Linked DNA regions of Homo sapiens. The protein of the gene in region 2 purifies or fractionates together with the protein of the main gene of each other region. This does not show direct contact. Each region holds a gene or a part of one and is shown on either strand. Other genes may lie near its edges.

Evidence for each region. Proteins that work in one complex are often made in the same cells at the same time.
Region 1: the proteins of IGDCC4 (region 2) and PLCD3 purify together in Homo sapiens (affinity purification with mass spectrometry; one large-scale study listed by BioGRID and IntAct). This does not show direct contact.
Region 3: the proteins of IGDCC4 (region 2) and CDS1 purify together in Homo sapiens (affinity purification with mass spectrometry; one large-scale study listed by BioGRID and IntAct). This does not show direct contact.
Region 4: the proteins of IGDCC4 (region 2) and ST7 purify together in Homo sapiens (affinity purification with mass spectrometry; one large-scale study listed by BioGRID and IntAct). This does not show direct contact.

What each region holds. Positions count from the first base shown.
Region 1 is NC_000017.11:45,118,767-45,122,607, forward strand, and holds part of PLCD3 (1-phosphatidylinositol 4,5-bisphosphate phosphodiesterase delta-3), read right to left. Parts: intron 2,607-3,841; coding exon 2,445-2,606; intron 2,365-2,444; coding exon 2,136-2,364; intron 1,689-2,135; coding exon 1,559-1,688; intron 278-1,558; coding exon 49-277; intron 1-48. UniProt on the Homo sapiens protein: Hydrolyzes the phosphatidylinositol 4,5-bisphosphate (PIP2) to generate 2 second messenger molecules diacylglycerol (DAG) and inositol 1,4,5-trisphosphate (IP3).
Region 2 is NC_000015.10:65,388,150-65,391,990, reverse strand, and holds part of IGDCC4 (immunoglobulin superfamily DCC subclass member 4 precursor), read left to right. Parts: intron 1-9; coding exon 10-111; intron 112-1,652; coding exon 1,653-1,836; intron 1,837-2,576; coding exon of another isoform or gene 2,577-2,579; coding exon 2,580-2,707; intron 2,708-3,012; coding exon 3,013-3,183; intron 3,184-3,404; coding exon 3,405-3,542; intron 3,543-3,841.
Region 3 is NC_000004.12:84,645,535-84,649,375, forward strand, and holds part of CDS1 (phosphatidate cytidylyltransferase 1), read left to right. Parts: intron 1-3,022; coding exon 3,023-3,152; 3' UTR 3,153-3,841. UniProt on the Homo sapiens protein: Catalyzes the conversion of phosphatidic acid (PA) to CDP-diacylglycerol (CDP-DAG), an essential intermediate in the synthesis of phosphatidylglycerol, cardiolipin and phosphatidylinositol.
Region 4 is NC_000007.14:117,225,909-117,229,749, forward strand, and holds part of ST7 (suppressor of tumorigenicity 7 protein), read left to right. Parts: intron 1-3,841. UniProt on the Homo sapiens protein: May act as a tumor suppressor.

The DNA.
Region 1 (3,841 bases), on a different chromosome or scaffold from region 2:
AACACAGCCCTTTCAGGTGCCACGACCTGGCCGTGCCACCCCCCCCACCTGTCTCGTTGAGCTCATAGGTCTGAATGAGCTGCTGGGCGCGGGCCAGTGTGGCGCCCTCCTCGCCCTGGTCCTCCAGGAACTCCAGCAGCTCAGGGGCACTCAGCACGCGGTCCTCGCCCGAGTACTGATGGAAGATCTCCTCCAGCTCCGGCCGCTTCAGCAGCCGCCGCAGGAACTCCTCGATCTCAGCCCCCTCTAGACGGTCGTTGTTGGAGTGGTCACACTCCTGGGGAGCAGCAGGAGAAGCTCAGAGGAGGCAGACACTCCAGGAAACCTGGCCCCTTTGACCCATCTGTCATCTACCACATCTGAGAAGGCAATGGTCCCCATTTCACAGGTGGAAAAACAGAGTAAGACTTGTGACTCTAGCTCACACAGCTGGTAAATTACAGGGCAGGATTTTTTGGTTTGTTTTTTAGGTTTGTTTGTTTGTTTGGTCTTGCTCTGTTACCCAGGCTGGAGCGCAGTGGCATGATCATAGCTCACTGCAGCTTCCAACGCGTGATCTCAAGTGATCCTCCCACCTCAGCCTTCCAAATAGCTGGACAGCTGGGACCACTGGTGTGCACCACTGCACCTGGCTAATTTTTGTATTTTTTGTAGAGATGGGGTCTTGCTGTGTTGCCCAAGCTGATCTCAAACTCCTGGCTTCAAGCAATCCTCCCGCCTAGGCCTCTCAAAGTGCTGGGATGACAGGGGTGAGCCACTGAGCCTGGCCGGCAGGGCTGGACTTAAAAGGTCTCTCTGGTTCAGTGCCTGCCCCTCTGCACCATGACCTACCCCAGGAATCAAGATGTGGAAGGAAAAATGGTGACCCTGGGCCAAGACAGGGCCCTTGGGCCCTCACACTCCCCTAGGTGGACACGTTACTATCCTGACATGCACATATTCACACCCAGCATCATTGAACAAGTCAATGAGAATTCATGGAGCATCCCTGTGAAGCTGTGGCCCAGGGGTCCAGCTGCCATGGGCTCTCCTGTCTTTCGGGGTCACAGGTGGGTCCCACCATCCACATGCACACAGAGGTCTGCCATGGGCTCCAGCTGGGCCATAGCTGCAGAGCCCACTCCTGTGTGCCCCTGTGCTCCCATGCATGAGGTGCCAACACGTGCCACAGTGGAGGGTCTGCGTGGAGAAGGGTGCACACGTGTATCCGTGCACATGCACACCTGTAGGCTGGCTCCTGCCTGTGCCCCCACGTGCAAAAGGTGCCTTGCAGACTCAGGGAAATGAAAACAGCTTTGCTGCTCACTTTGGAGGGGTAGGAACTGAGGATGAGGAAAGTTCTGGGCCCCGGCTCCCCACTCCCTTCCTGGCCCAGTGGCCTCAGGGGAGGCAAAAGGCTAACTAACCCCAGATGTTGCCTTTGTGCAGGGAAAGGCTGCTCGCTCCAAAAAAGCTGCAGGTGGAGAGGGCAGGGGAGCTGATGATTCAGATGGCTGGGGGCAGGCAGAGGTCAGAGTGATGGCAGAGCCAGGGGCTGGGGTTCAGGGCGGAAGCCCACCTTGAAGAGGAGGTAGGCGTACATGTCGTTCATGTCCACGTTGACCATTCTCAGCAGGCTCTTGATCTCCTTGAAGCTCATCTTGCTGTCCTGGTTGGAGTCAGCCCGGTGCAGATAGGAGTGGATCCAGGTGTGGGTGCTCAGGAAATAACAGCAACACGCCAGGCTGCCCCCAGCCCTCAGGTAACTGGCTGGTAAGTCACCCCCACCTGGGTCTGGGGGATCCCCAGTTTAGGGGCTGTACTTTCCCCTTGGCCTGTGCACTCCCCGAGCACGGTAGCAGTGTCTCCTCCGCAGGACTGGGGCTTACCAAAGACAGGAGGCCCTGTCTTCACCCTCAGAAGGCCTCAGGCCTCCCTGAAGGAGGCGCCGCGCCACCCCTCCTGGTGGGAGCTTGGGCCTAGCCAGGGCGCGTGTCCCCACCCTCAGTTTCGAAGACCAAGGGCTCCGACCCAGACCGTGCGCCCTCAGGACAGGGCCCTGCCTTCCCTGGGCGTGGGGGCTCTCCAAGGATGGGGCTCTCCAAGGTTAGGGCTCTCCAAGGATGGGGCCCTCCCTCCCAGCCCCGGCAGGATATTGGTCTAGCCGCTCGCGCTGGCTCATGGCGTCCAGGCGCGCGCGGAGCTTGGTCAGACCGCGCACCCAGCGCTGCGCTTCCTCAGCCGTGGGCGCCGCCAGGTCCAGGTTCTTGCGGCGGCCCTTGAAGGCGATGGTGAGGCAGCGCGCTGGCGCGAAGGCACCCCCGAAGCGCCGCAGGCCCTCGGACTGGTGGCCCTCGCGGACCGCCTCGATGTGCTGCACGAAGACTGAGAGGAGGGCCGGGTCAGGGCGGAGGACCGGGCCTGTCCCCACCTCCCTGTCCGCCCGGCGCTCCCCGGCCTCTCACAGATGTGCTGCGATGGCGCACGCGGGATGCGCCGCTGGAACCACACGCTCAGGCCGTCCTCCTGCAGCCGGTACAGCCGCTCCTTGTGCCACGTGCGCGAGCGGATCTTGCGGAGCCGGGAGCCCCGCAGCATGGCGCGCACGTCCTCGTCCTCCGTCAGGCCTGGCGGGGCGGGAGGACCCGGGGCGTCAGGCCGTACCTGCCCAGAGGCTCCCCTGCCCTCCCCCGCTAGGACCTGCTGCCCCATCCTCCAGCCTCTCCAAACCCAGGCCTTCATCCCACAGTAAGCTTCCCTCCCCCTCACAGGACTCCCCTCCTCCCCGATTGTAAGAAGCCTCCTGCACTGGGTTTGGCTTTAGGCTTTGGAGCCCTAAACGCCCCCCAACCCGTACCCCATCTCCCTCCTTCCTTCCAAGCAGCGGCCTCTGCAGTCCCTCAGTGTGGAACTGCCCTCGGACAATGCCTGGGACTCAGGCCTCACTAAAGGTTGCCCTTTCTGGCAGGGCGCGGTGGCTCACGCCTATAATCTCAGCACTTGGGAGGCCGAGGTGGGTGGATCACTTGAGGTCGGGAGTTCGAGACCAGCCTGGCCAACATGGTGCAACCCCACCTCTACTAAAAATACAAAATTAGCTGGGTGTGGTGGCACATGCCTGTAATCCCAGCTACTTAGGAGGCTGAGGTTGCCATGAGCCAAGATTGTGCCACTGCACTGCAGCCTAAGCGACAGAGTGAGACTGCGTCTTAACAAAAAAAAAAAAAAATTGCCTTTTCTGCCACTATCCCCCACCACATGGCTTCCAGCCTTCAAGTCCAGAATTTGCCACCAACAGCCTTTTTCCCTTGATGTGAAACCGTAGCCATCAGGAAGGTCTCACCATCTAACCTAGATCTCTCTTGCTGTAACCCAAGCACCTTGCCTCTGCTTTCCCAAAGACAAGGAGGACAGCAGAGGCCACCCTGGCTCCAGGGTCACAGGCCAAGGACTCCAGGATCAGCCCTGCCCAGCTGATCTCCAGGCATGGGAGGCTGAGGCATGAGAATCACTTGAATCCGGGAGGCGGAGGTTGCAGTGAGCCAAGATTGCGCCACTGCACTCCAGCTTGGGCAACAGAGTGAGACTCTGTCTCTAAAAAATAAATAAATAAAAGCATCTCCTGTGTGCAGGCCCTGCTCATGTACTAATAGACAAGGAAACTGAGGCTCAGGGAAGCTTAAGTAAGTTGTCAGAATTCCATACTGGTAGAAGCCACTTTGGGCTCTGGAGGTCGGGGTCCAGCGCCTCTGACCTTTGGCCCTGCACTGCACGGCTCTTCTAGTGCTTCTAAATTCCGAAGTCTGGGGAGTAAGTCTCAACACTGTCACTTCCCAGTTATTTAATACATGGCCCCAGTGGC
Region 2 (3,841 bases):
CTTCCCCAGTCCCTGGCCGGCTGTACGAGGTGAAGCTCGTGGCTTTCAACAAACATGAGGATGGCTATGCAGCAGTGTGGAAGGGCAAGACGGAGAAGGCGCCGGCACCAGGTGAGGGCGGTGGGGGAAGAAGGCGGGGAGGGCTCAGGTGAGGGCTCTGCTAGCCGCTTCCTCTTCTTTTCCTTTGGGCCAGCCTGGTGAGCAGGTACTTTAGTAGCCTCAGCTCATGCCCAAACCCATTCTCCTAGGATCAGGGGTCCTCTTTTAGCTCCAGAGAGCCTCTGTCATGGAGAGAAGCTTGTTTGTTCACTGTCTTAGGCCTGCCACCTTATTTGCATTACCCATGAATAGTGCTGATTTCCAAAGTTTGAACAGAGGGAAACCCTATGGTTGATCAGTAACTCCCGACCCCAAGTTTGACTGTAAAACAAGTTTTTTTAAAAACACATTTGTCTACATCACACTATCAGACTATCTCTCAAGTCTAAGAAGAGTGAGTATCCCTGTGTGACCTAACGGGAAACTGAGGCTCAGAGAGGAAAAGGAACTTGTCCAAGGTCACACAGAGCCTAGGCTACAACTGGGACTCCTGGTTTCCAGGCAAAACTCTTTCCACTGCACTACACTGCCTTGTGGCCCTGCATTGGACACCTCAGTTGCCCATCATGATACTCCCTCACCCCTAACTTCCCAGCCACATGGTTTAGCAGAGGGAGTAATCAACCAGAAGCCATGAAGCTTGGGTTCTTTTTTTTTCTTTTGAGACAGAGTCTCACTCTGTTGCCCAGGCTGGAGTGCAATGGTATGATCTCAGCTCACTGCAACCTCTGCCTCCTGGGTTCAAGCAATTCTTGTGCCTCGGCCTCTTGAGCAGCTGGGATTACAGGTGTGCACCATACCTGGCTAATTTTTGTATTTTTAGTAGAGACGGGGTTTCACCATGTTGGCCAGGCTGGCCTTGAACTCCCGACCTCAGGTGATCCACCCATCTTGGCCTCCCAACGTGCTGGGATTACAGGTGTGAGCCACCACACCCAGCTGAGTTCTAATTCCAGTTTGTTCATTTCTTCATTCAGCAAATATTTCGCTGAGTGTCTACTAAGTGCCAGCTGCTTTGGGAATTTAGTGGTGGACAACACAAATAAGGTTCTTGCTCTCTTGGGGTTTATTTTATGTTTCTAAAATAAACACTTATAAATATAGTGTTTATTATATTTCAATTTCCTATCTATTTTTAAAATATTAAATAATTTAATCCTCATAACAACCCCATGAGGTAGGTACTATCATTAGAATAGTGAATGGAGACACAGAGAAGGTAAGTAATTTCTCCAAGGTCACACAGCTAGTAAGTGTCAGAGCTGGAATTTGAACCAAGGCAGCCTGGTTCCAGAGTCTGGTTCCATGGTTATTCATTGCTGTGATTTGCTGCCTCTCTCTTTATTACGTTCTTACAGACTAGTGTTCCACAGTCAAAAATCAAATTCTTGGAAGCCTCAATTGCCTTATCTGTGAAGTAGGAATGATGCCACTCAACTCACAGGATCAAAGGAGTGGGTCAAAGAAACAGCCTTGGGAACTGTAAACCACTATACATATTTAAGGATGAGTATCCTCCCTCCCTTCCTCACACTCTAGTTTTCACCTTTCAGACATGCCTATCCAGAGGGGACCACCCCTGCCTCCAGCCCACGTCCATGCGGAATCAAACAGCTCCACATCCATCTGGCTTCGGTGGAAAAAGCCAGATTTCACCACAGTCAAGATTGTCAACTACACTGTGCGCTTCAGCCCCTGGGGGCTCAGGAATGCCTCCCTGGTCACCTATTACACCAGGTGGGGACTAATGCCTTTACTAATGTAAAGAAGGGAGGAAGAATAGGTGGGGGGTGGTGGTGGGAAGGCAGCAGGTGGTGATCAGGGAAGGGCCCCTGGGATTCAGGAACATGTCATGGCTCACCTGTTACGCTGAGGCCACACAGAGGGGCTGCACAGGGTCCACGTCCTTGCCTGCTGACCAGATGGTAGCAAGGAGGCCATCCAATCCCGTCCCCTCACAACAGAGCCTTGTTCTCAAACTCCGGAGAATGTGACACAGGACAGACCTGTTTCTCCAACCTCAGAGGGCTCCCAGTCTGATGGTGAAGAGAACCCCACCCCTGTCCTCAGAGCTGCTCCCTCTACCCTGTTAGATGGGGAGACAGAGCCTGAGGAGCCTGAGGTTTGGCGGAGGAAAGTCGCATAAAAAGCAACCGATATATACAACTGCCATGAAGGCAAAATTAAGCCAAAGAAAAGATGCATCGGAGATGATTCCATAGGTGGAGAATAACTTGGATTAATCCAGGAAGGTTTCCTGGAGGAAGGGGTCTGGTTTCGAGATTGGACTTGGAGCAGCATACATCCAGACTTCTCTGTAGGTCCCTGGGTGGTGGTAGTCGCCTCCAGGCCAGGGAGCAGCTTCCCTTCCCAGGGTAGAGCCTGGGGCTGGGGCTGACTGCAGGGGAGTAGATTTGGAGGAGTCTGCCCTGCTGGGAGAGTGTGCCTGAGAGCACTAGTCACGTTTCTTGCCTTAGCAGTTCTGGAGAAGACATCCTCATTGGCGGCTTGAAGCCATTCACCAAATACGAGTTTGCAGTGCAGTCTCACGGCGTGGACATGGATGGGCCTTTCGGCTCTGTGGTGGAGCGCTCCACCCTGCCTGACCGTGAGTGGCTCCCAGCCCCTTGCCACCAACCCATCTTTTGCCCAACTCCTTCTTGCCCCAGCAGCAAGAAACATACTTCAGAACCCCAAGGTTTGGGCAGAGCTGGGGGCAGAAGAGTTTCTGGGAGGGGAGGAATGTTAAGTCCCTCCAACCACACATACTGTTTTCTAGAATTCCCCAACTAGAAACCAGACCTCATCTTTGCTTTGTGGCTTGTTCCATGAAGGAGGAAGAAGGGAGGTCATATCATCATGCTCTGTCCCCCAGCTCTGACATCTCTCCCCATCTCCTCTCCCGCACCCCAGGGCCCTCCACACCCCCATCCGACCTGCGACTGAGCCCCCTGACACCGTCCACGGTTCGGCTGCACTGGTGCCCCCCCACAGAGCCCAACGGGGAGATCGTGGAGTATCTGATCCTGTACAGCAGCAACCACACGCAGCCTGAGCACCAGTGGACCTTGCTCACCACGCAGGGTGAGGGCTCCTGCCCCAGGGCATCTGCTCAAGAGCTTCCCAGCCTCTCCCGCTTCCAGCAGTGAGAACAGTGCTGGGGTTTGTTCCAGGGGCTACTGGGAGAAGCAAGCAGAAGCTGCTGCCTAAGTGGAGAGCAGACTCTCCCAGTCCCCTCCCTGCCCACCTCTGCATCCACCCACCCCATCCACCATCCCTGCTCTCCCTGCCTCCCTCACCCCCAGGAAACATCTTCAGTGCTGAGGTCCATGGCCTGGAGAGCGACACTCGGTACTTCTTCAAGATGGGGGCGCGCACAGAGGTGGGACCTGGGCCTTTCTCCCGCCTGCAGGATGTGATCACGCTCCAGGAGAAGCTGTCAGGTATGAGCACAGGGCAGCCCAGGTTTCCCTGGATTGACTTCCAAGCCCCTGCCTGTGGACACAACTACAATTTCATTGTTTTGCACAGCTGTCCTCCAGGTTTGGTGGGGGCAGAGCAAATGTGAAGGGGAAATAGGTGTGGTTCAGTGATAACTTGATTCAGAGGCCAGGTTCGTGGGGGACTGGCTTTTTTTTTTTTTTTCTGAGATGGAGTTTCACTCTTGTTGCCCAGGCTAGAGTGCAATGGCGCAATCTCGGCTCACTGCAACCTCCGCCTCCCAGGTTCAAGCGATTCTGCT
Region 3 (3,841 bases), on a different chromosome or scaffold from region 2:
ATGGTCCTGGACCACATTGAAGACCCAATTAATGTGGATGGTATAGGATTTGAAACTTGAGGAGATTTGATTTCTCAACTGTGGGCATTGCAATGATCATGAATACTAAGAGTTAAAAAGGGAGATAACGAAATGCATCCAGTCTACCAATTATTACTTGAGTGCCTGCCATATTGTAGAATGTTCTAGGGACAAATATGGCAGAGAACAAAACAAACCAAATCTCTGCCCCCATAGCTACTTGTTTGGAAGTTGAAGAAAGAATGATGAGAAAGAGACAATAAACAAATAAATATAGTTTGTTAGATGGTTGTAAGTGTCACACAGAAAAATAAAGCAGGCCGAGGGGATCATGCCTGTGTGTGTAGGGGCTGGCTGGTGGATGGGTGGATGAATATTGCCATTTTAGAAAGGGTGGTTTATTCTTGTTATTAAACCTTAATGTTTTGGATCTGCCTTGAAATACCAGTGTGAGTGTGAAGGCTTAACATCAACTGCATGTTAACTTTATTTTCTGTGGTCTCTACTGGGGGCCCAGAAGGCAGAATGCTTATTAATAGTACCTGAGCTGTAGAAAACATGGATTTCCTTCATAGTACTTGGAAGGAAATTCATATTTAGCAATCCCTAAATACACATTTTAAATATGTACCACAGTAGTGTGAGAATTTTTATATTAACTATTTTTGAGAGACAGTCCTGATAGCGAGTTTATCAATTTCATTAATCTTTTCAAAAATATCAACTCCAGGCTTTGTTAATTTTCTCTACTGTAAATTTTTTACCTCATTGATTTCTCCTCTCATCTTTCATTTCTCTGCCTTTTTTAAATGTTCAATATGCTGTTCTTTTTTTAATTCTGGAGATAAGCTTAGATTATTGATTTTTAGCCTTCTTATCTAATTTATCCATTGAAGACTATTAAGTATCACTTTATCCTCTTCCTGCAAGTTGTGATATTTGTATTTTCATTATTTACATGTTTTCTGATTTCCAGTATTATATCTTCTTTAACACATGGGTTATTTAGAAGCATATTCATTAGTTTTCAAACAAATGGAGATTTTTTCACTTTCCTCCCTTAATTCCACTGTGGTCGGAAAACATACTCTATGATTTGAGTATTTTATAATTTTTGAGATCTATTCTGTGGTACAGCATGTTATCTATTCTAGTACATGCTCCATGGGCAAAGGTGTATTCTGTAGTTTTGGGTTGTAGTTTTGTCTGTGTCAGTTAGGTGAGGTTTAATTAAATCTTCTGTACTGATTTTTGTTTATTTGTTTTTGTGTTTGTTTGGTCCGCTTGTTCTATCAGTTACTAAGAGAGCTTTGTTAAAGTCTCTCATTGTGATTGTAAATGTATTTTTTTATTTGTAGTTCTACCAATTTTTGGTTTATATATTTTGAGGTTGTATTAGGTATGTACAAATTTAGGATTGTCATATCTCTCCATTGAATTGATCCTTTTGTCATTATATAATGTCTGTCTTTACTGCTTGCCTTAAAGCGTACTGTGTTGAATATTAAAATAGCAATATCAGCTTTCTTTTGGTCAGTGTTTGCATGTTATTTCTTTGTCTCTCCTTTTATTTTTAACATTCCCTTTTCCTTATATTTAATGTGTTTCTTTTTTCTAGTAAGCATATAGCTGATTTTTTTCCCTGTTTTATTTATAAGACAGTTGATAATCTTTATCCTTTTAATGGGACTATTTAACTTATTTGCATATTATTTATTGATCTATTTGGGTATTAGTAATTAGTGGTTAAATCCTTAAAACTTTGTTTTCAGAATATGGCAGCTTTTTAGGGCATTAACTCATATGCTTTCTTTAAAAAAAAAATGCTGTCCTCTCAGTAGGGAGGTGTCATGCTGAGCCATGTTGTCCACCATTTGAAAGCAGCTATTTAGACTGTTAGAAGACACTGAGAGTGCCAGGATGCAGCTAGCTGGGAGCACCTGCTGACACAATTTTGCATTTAGCTGAACTTGCTAAAGCAGCCTTCCTTTTCTCTGTTGGTCTCTACTTGGGGTTTATGCTGTGAAGTTGCTGACTCTTTTAAAGAAATGAAATAAGGCGAACAGTGTCCTGACCTGAGTGTGAAAGTTTTTTGGCAGATGAGTTGAGCCACGTGCATGAAGATGACCCTTGGTGGGATGGCTCATCTGGGCTCTTGTGCAATTTGTTAAGTCAAAGATTTTCAGAGTAAATAGTTCCTCTGCTCATCCTCATTGTGGTAACACTAAATAGCAAACATTTCTTTGTTGCTGGGATTTCTACTTTCTATAATTCAATGTGAACAATCTTTACTGTAAGGCATACATTATTTACCCACATAAATGTCTTTCTTAGAATTCTATGCCATCTCTATACATGACTTGTATGTTGCTTTTTCCCATTGGATTTTAAAGCAGATCTGCTTTTATTTTGTTTTTTATATTGGAGTTCACCTAGGACTGTCTTTGAACAAAGTCCACGGCACCTGTATCACTGGTAAGGGGCTTCAGTGCTAGGCTCAGGACTTTTGTGTTCTGACTCTGAATATTCATAACTCCCTGGAGATATTTTTCAACAAAATACCTTTCATCATCTGAAGTTTCTTGGAAGTTAAAAATTTCAATTATATTTTCATGCCCTCTTTTTGGTTTGTCCTATGTTCACCAGGCTCCTTTCCTTACAGAATAGTTTTTGTGTCTCATTCAATCTCAAGATTTGCCATTTATCCCCACCTTTAACTTTGGTTGCCCTTTCAAGAGCTTTTGTAGAACTTAGATCTGCACCCCTTCAATTGACTTACATTGCTCTTGTGTTTTGTGTTTGTGCATTCTTTCTCCCTCTCTGCTGTAACCCTTGACACTAACATTGCACATTAAAGTGAGCTATTATCAAGAGCTATTTTAATTCTGTAAAGATTCCTACTCTACACTTAAAGGAATGGTTTGTTTTAAATTGGAGGTATGTGCTTCACTTATCCCTATTAAAATAACACGAACTTGTCTTCTTTGCCTTTTATCATTAGGGGCCCAAATCCCAGCAAAGTGCTACAGCAGTTGTTGGTGCTTCAACCTGAACAGCAGTTAAATATATATAAAACCCTGAAGACTCATCTCATTGAGAAAGGAATCCTACAACCCACCTTGAAGGTATAACTGGATCCAGAGAGGGAAGGACTGACAAGAAGGAATTATTCAGAAAAACACTGACAGATGTTTTATAAATTGTACAGAAAAATAGTTAAAAATGCAATAGGTTGAAGTTTTGGAGATATGTTTCTCTCTGAAATTACTGTGAATATTTAACAAACACTTACTTGATCTATGTTATGAAATAAGTAGCAAATTGCCAGCAAAATGTCTTGTACCTTTTCTAAAGTGTATTTTCTGATGTGAACTTCCTTCCCCTTACTTGCTAGGTTTCATAATTTAAAAGACTGGTATTTAAAAGAGTCAAACACTATAAAATGAGTAAGTTGACGATGTTTTAAGATTGCACCTGGCAGTGTGCCTTTTTGCACAAATATTTACTTTTGCACTTGGAGCTGCTTTTAATTTTAGCAAAATGTTTTATGCAAGGCACAATAGGAAGTCAGTTCTCCTGCACTTCCTCCTCATGTAGTCTGGAGTACTTTCTAAAGGGCTTAGTTGGATTTAAAAAAAAAAAAAAAAGATTGTCTACTTTTCAAAGAAGTAACCATTTGCCAGGGGAAAACATTCTGCTTTTAGGTAGTTTCAAAATTCAGGGGAGGGAGCCTGAAATTTTTGCCATGATTGGTTTGTTAGAAAGAGCAGGCATCAGACTACTTCTGATAAAATTGTTTGGAAGGTCACGACCTCGCAAA
Region 4 (3,841 bases), on a different chromosome or scaffold from region 2:
GACTAACTCTTCCTAGAATGTTTAGTTACAAAGATAAGCTTGCACATATAAATACGTTATCATTCCAAACCCACCTCCTCACAGAATGTGGGAAGGTCAGGATTCTGACCCCTCTGTCTTTCCTTCTCTTGTCTCTCTCCTTCTCCGAGACTGAGCCTCTTGATTTCTGACTCTCATGTTCACTTATAGTCCTCGACCTCTTTGAAGCCTGATATTGATTACCGTGAAATGTCAATTGTCTGATTGCAGTAGGGCACCTGGAAGTTATTCAGATAAGCAGAGGCGTTTTGAATGTTAATGAAGCCTGTTGGGAGCCGTGACCTTCTAAGTGATGGTGTTTCAGGAAAAGGAAGATCAGGCAATTGAAATGTCGTTCTCTTTTTTTACTAGTTCAGTTGCTTTTTCTCACCACGAGACACTCATTGAATCCTAGGGCATTTTGATTAAAGATATGACCATGTATCTCTGCCCTCTGGACAGTTTTAGACATCGAGATAAATAGGCTGTTCCAGGTTTTCTTGGTGTTGCTCATTCAGACTTAACTTTTCAGCAGTAAATTTCCCCCTAAGTCAAGTGAAAACTGCTGTTTCTCCTTCTATATTGGTTGGGTCTCCAACTAAAAAATATTGACTGATTTTCAAACATGCGCAGAAATACAACTGAGCATCCCAAGCAAGTCTGCACCTCCAGACATTTTTTAAAAAATATCTCCTGATGGAGCTTTTATTTGGTTATGAAGTGAAAGGGCTTAGCAGCTTCAGACACCTCACTACATTGCCTGCTCCTTCCTTGCAGGTATGGGATGGAAGGCTTGCTGTGGGGGAAGGTGGCTTAGTAATGAAGGGAGCCCATCTCAACTGGGGCTCGTGGGAGAGTAAATTAGGCCCTCTAGGAAAAAGTTCAAGGGAGTCTTTGTGAATTCTCCCAAGGATGGAACATTCTAGATAGGAGGGATAGAAGCAAATCATTCTATACGTTGGAAGCATTGGGGCTTCGTATTCTTGTGGAACCTTGTTGAGAAGGGCAGGTGTCATCCAGGAAAGAAGGGACCACAGTACTTTGCTGTGCAGCATGGGGAAAAGGGAGCATTTATGGACATCAACCAGGATGAAGCTTTCCTCCTGATTTTCAGAGGCTTCACTTTTGTGCTTTTTATCCAAGTCAGGTTAGTGCCCAAAACAAAGCAAACAAATAAAGGCCTTTATTTTAAGCCAACCTTGTAACATCTCCATTCATTCTACAGCTCAAGGTGAGGCTCCCCGAGGACCCCACATTTTAGTGTGTGTGCATCACCCAGAGTACAGACTTTGAGCGATGCCTGTTATCTAGCTGCGCTGGCTCATGTTCAGCAGTTGCAACAGCTCCATGGCTGCAATGGCTCAATATCAGCAGTTCCTTCCCCACTCAACCACAACTTCAACAGTTCTAAATCTGTTTTTGGCCAAGTCTTCAGGATATAACTTTGCCAGCAATATCACCTTGTTTATTAAGCCCTATCTTCCACCACCTGTCAGAATCTCTGGTTTATCGAGACCACTGTAACACTTTAACTCCTCTTTATGAAGTTGAGCATTATAGACAGATGCTGTGGTTTGTGGAGCCTTGGTAGTCTCTGATTATATATGTGTCTGTGTATGTAGATATACATATACGCAGACATATATAATTATGTATGTACACATATTATGTGTGTATTTCCTATCATGTTGGGTGAATGCAATCAGTAGACTTGTTCCATATTATCCTCTTATAACTAGGATTTTACAAATGCTTTCAGAGTAATTGGGCAGTAATTGCTCATTCCCAGGCCCATTGTCTCCCATGATGCCTTCCAACTGCATTCATGGGTGCTCCCAATCCAGCTCTAAACTGAAAAAGATAGGCCATCTATTCCGTAGGGTGGTTTTGTGCACTCAACAAAGGATAATTTCAGAAGATTATCAGAAACTGCCATGTACCTGGCACCCGCTTGAGGATGGCACCGTCTCCTCTTTGCTCAAGCACTGACATGGCTGCCTGTTTCTTAACTGCAGATCCAACCTGACACGCAGGGCCCTCCCCAGTATCCTTCTAGCCACTTTTGAACTCTACTTCTTCTAACTGTCCTAGCTAAACTGAACCATTTACTACCTTCTGGTAATAGTGTTGCTTTTCCATTTCTCTTTGACTGTTTATTGAGCCTGGAGGGCCCACCCTGCTCCTATTTCTTCCTTTACCATCCTTACTCCATCTCTCTCTTTTGATATTCCAAGCATCCACTGGAGTCCATTTCACTTGCCTCTTTCTCAAAAGTATTCCTGCTCCTTTCAACAGAATGGATTCTCTCCCTTTTCCAATCCCAGTGCTTTGTTTGGGCCTCTATCCTGATTGCCATCACAGCCTATCTCATTATTAGTTTGCTCTGTCCAGATCTTCGTGGCCCCCTCCATCACTGGGCTTTGAGCTTCCTGACAGTGGGAGTTTAGTTTTGAACTACACCCCTTTATATTTCACCCAGCACTTAAGTGCCTTACTAAATAAATACATTTAATTGGTGTAAAACACAGATTGGAGAAGGATCCCAAATTTTACGCTGTCTTGATTTTGCATTATATGGATCTCGCATTTGATGATCTGGCTATTTTGTGTTACCTGCCTTCCCAGTGTGTGTTCTACTGGTCCAAAAACAAAATGAAACAACAGGACAGATTCTGGGTCAGCAAATTTGGGAAACTTGCCCACCATACCTCTTCTCGAAGACCCACAGTCCACAGAACATTTACCTAGTAAAGGAGCCTGATTTAACTTTATTAAATATACTAAATTTGCTTGACCTCAGAACTATGATCCCCTCTGCATTATATACACACACACTGCACTACACTTCTATGAGAAATTCTTGGTAGTGTAGATGGTGCTGTGTAATGGACAAGGGCTTAGGACAAAGGGCTCCATGGTACAAGAACCAGGTGTTGAACCCCAGTAAGACAATACCTGGGTTCTGAGCAGAGAGAGGGCAATGAAACCATCCCAACAACTCTCTCTTCCCTGACTGGGATAGGGCACCTCTTCTGCCAGATGCTGGATGGGGTGTGGAATGAAACTGATTCTTCACAAGAACAGAATTAGAATGGATTTGAGAATATTTTAATAAGTATCTCATGTGAAGCACTTGGCTTTCTTAAAAGACACAGCTAATGAGCTTTATTCTCTACATGAAAAGCAGAAAGGAATTTAGTAACCAAATGAAAGAGTTCCCAGAGGTGCACTCGGAACAGCCCCTTAACAAGGATCTGTCCTCCATGGAATAGCCCGTTTGCCGCCTTCTCCCAGGGTCCCAGGCATGCTGCTAAACATGTGGCTCAGAAAGGAGCCCACGCTGGTGTCTGGGAGGCAGTAGGACCGCAAAGAAATTCATACACAACACACTTGACCTGTAAAATTGCCATTTCCATTTAAAGTGAGCTCTACACCCAGCTAGATGAGCAGCTGGTCTAAGTTGTCACCATTTTTTAACTCTTGTGCCCACTTGCCACCAATCTGTCATTCCTGTTTGACGACACCAGTCATCTGCATGGCAGCTGGCAGATGCTAAAGACTAGCAGGAAGACCTCAGGACTGTGGGCCACCTGTCAGGGGAGTGAGGGGGCTGTCAGCTGACACTTCTCCCCCTTATCTAACAGTGCTGGGGCCAAGGACTGGAATGCAGGTTTGACCATCAGCTGATGTTTCCTGTAAACATAAAGATGAAATGGTTGCCTTTTGAGACTTTCGTAATGCAGAGACTTAAGCTGCAAGCGTGGGTGGAGAGGTTTGTTTTATAGTCTTGAACAAGGTTTCTGCTGACTTCTGTGTCTGTCTG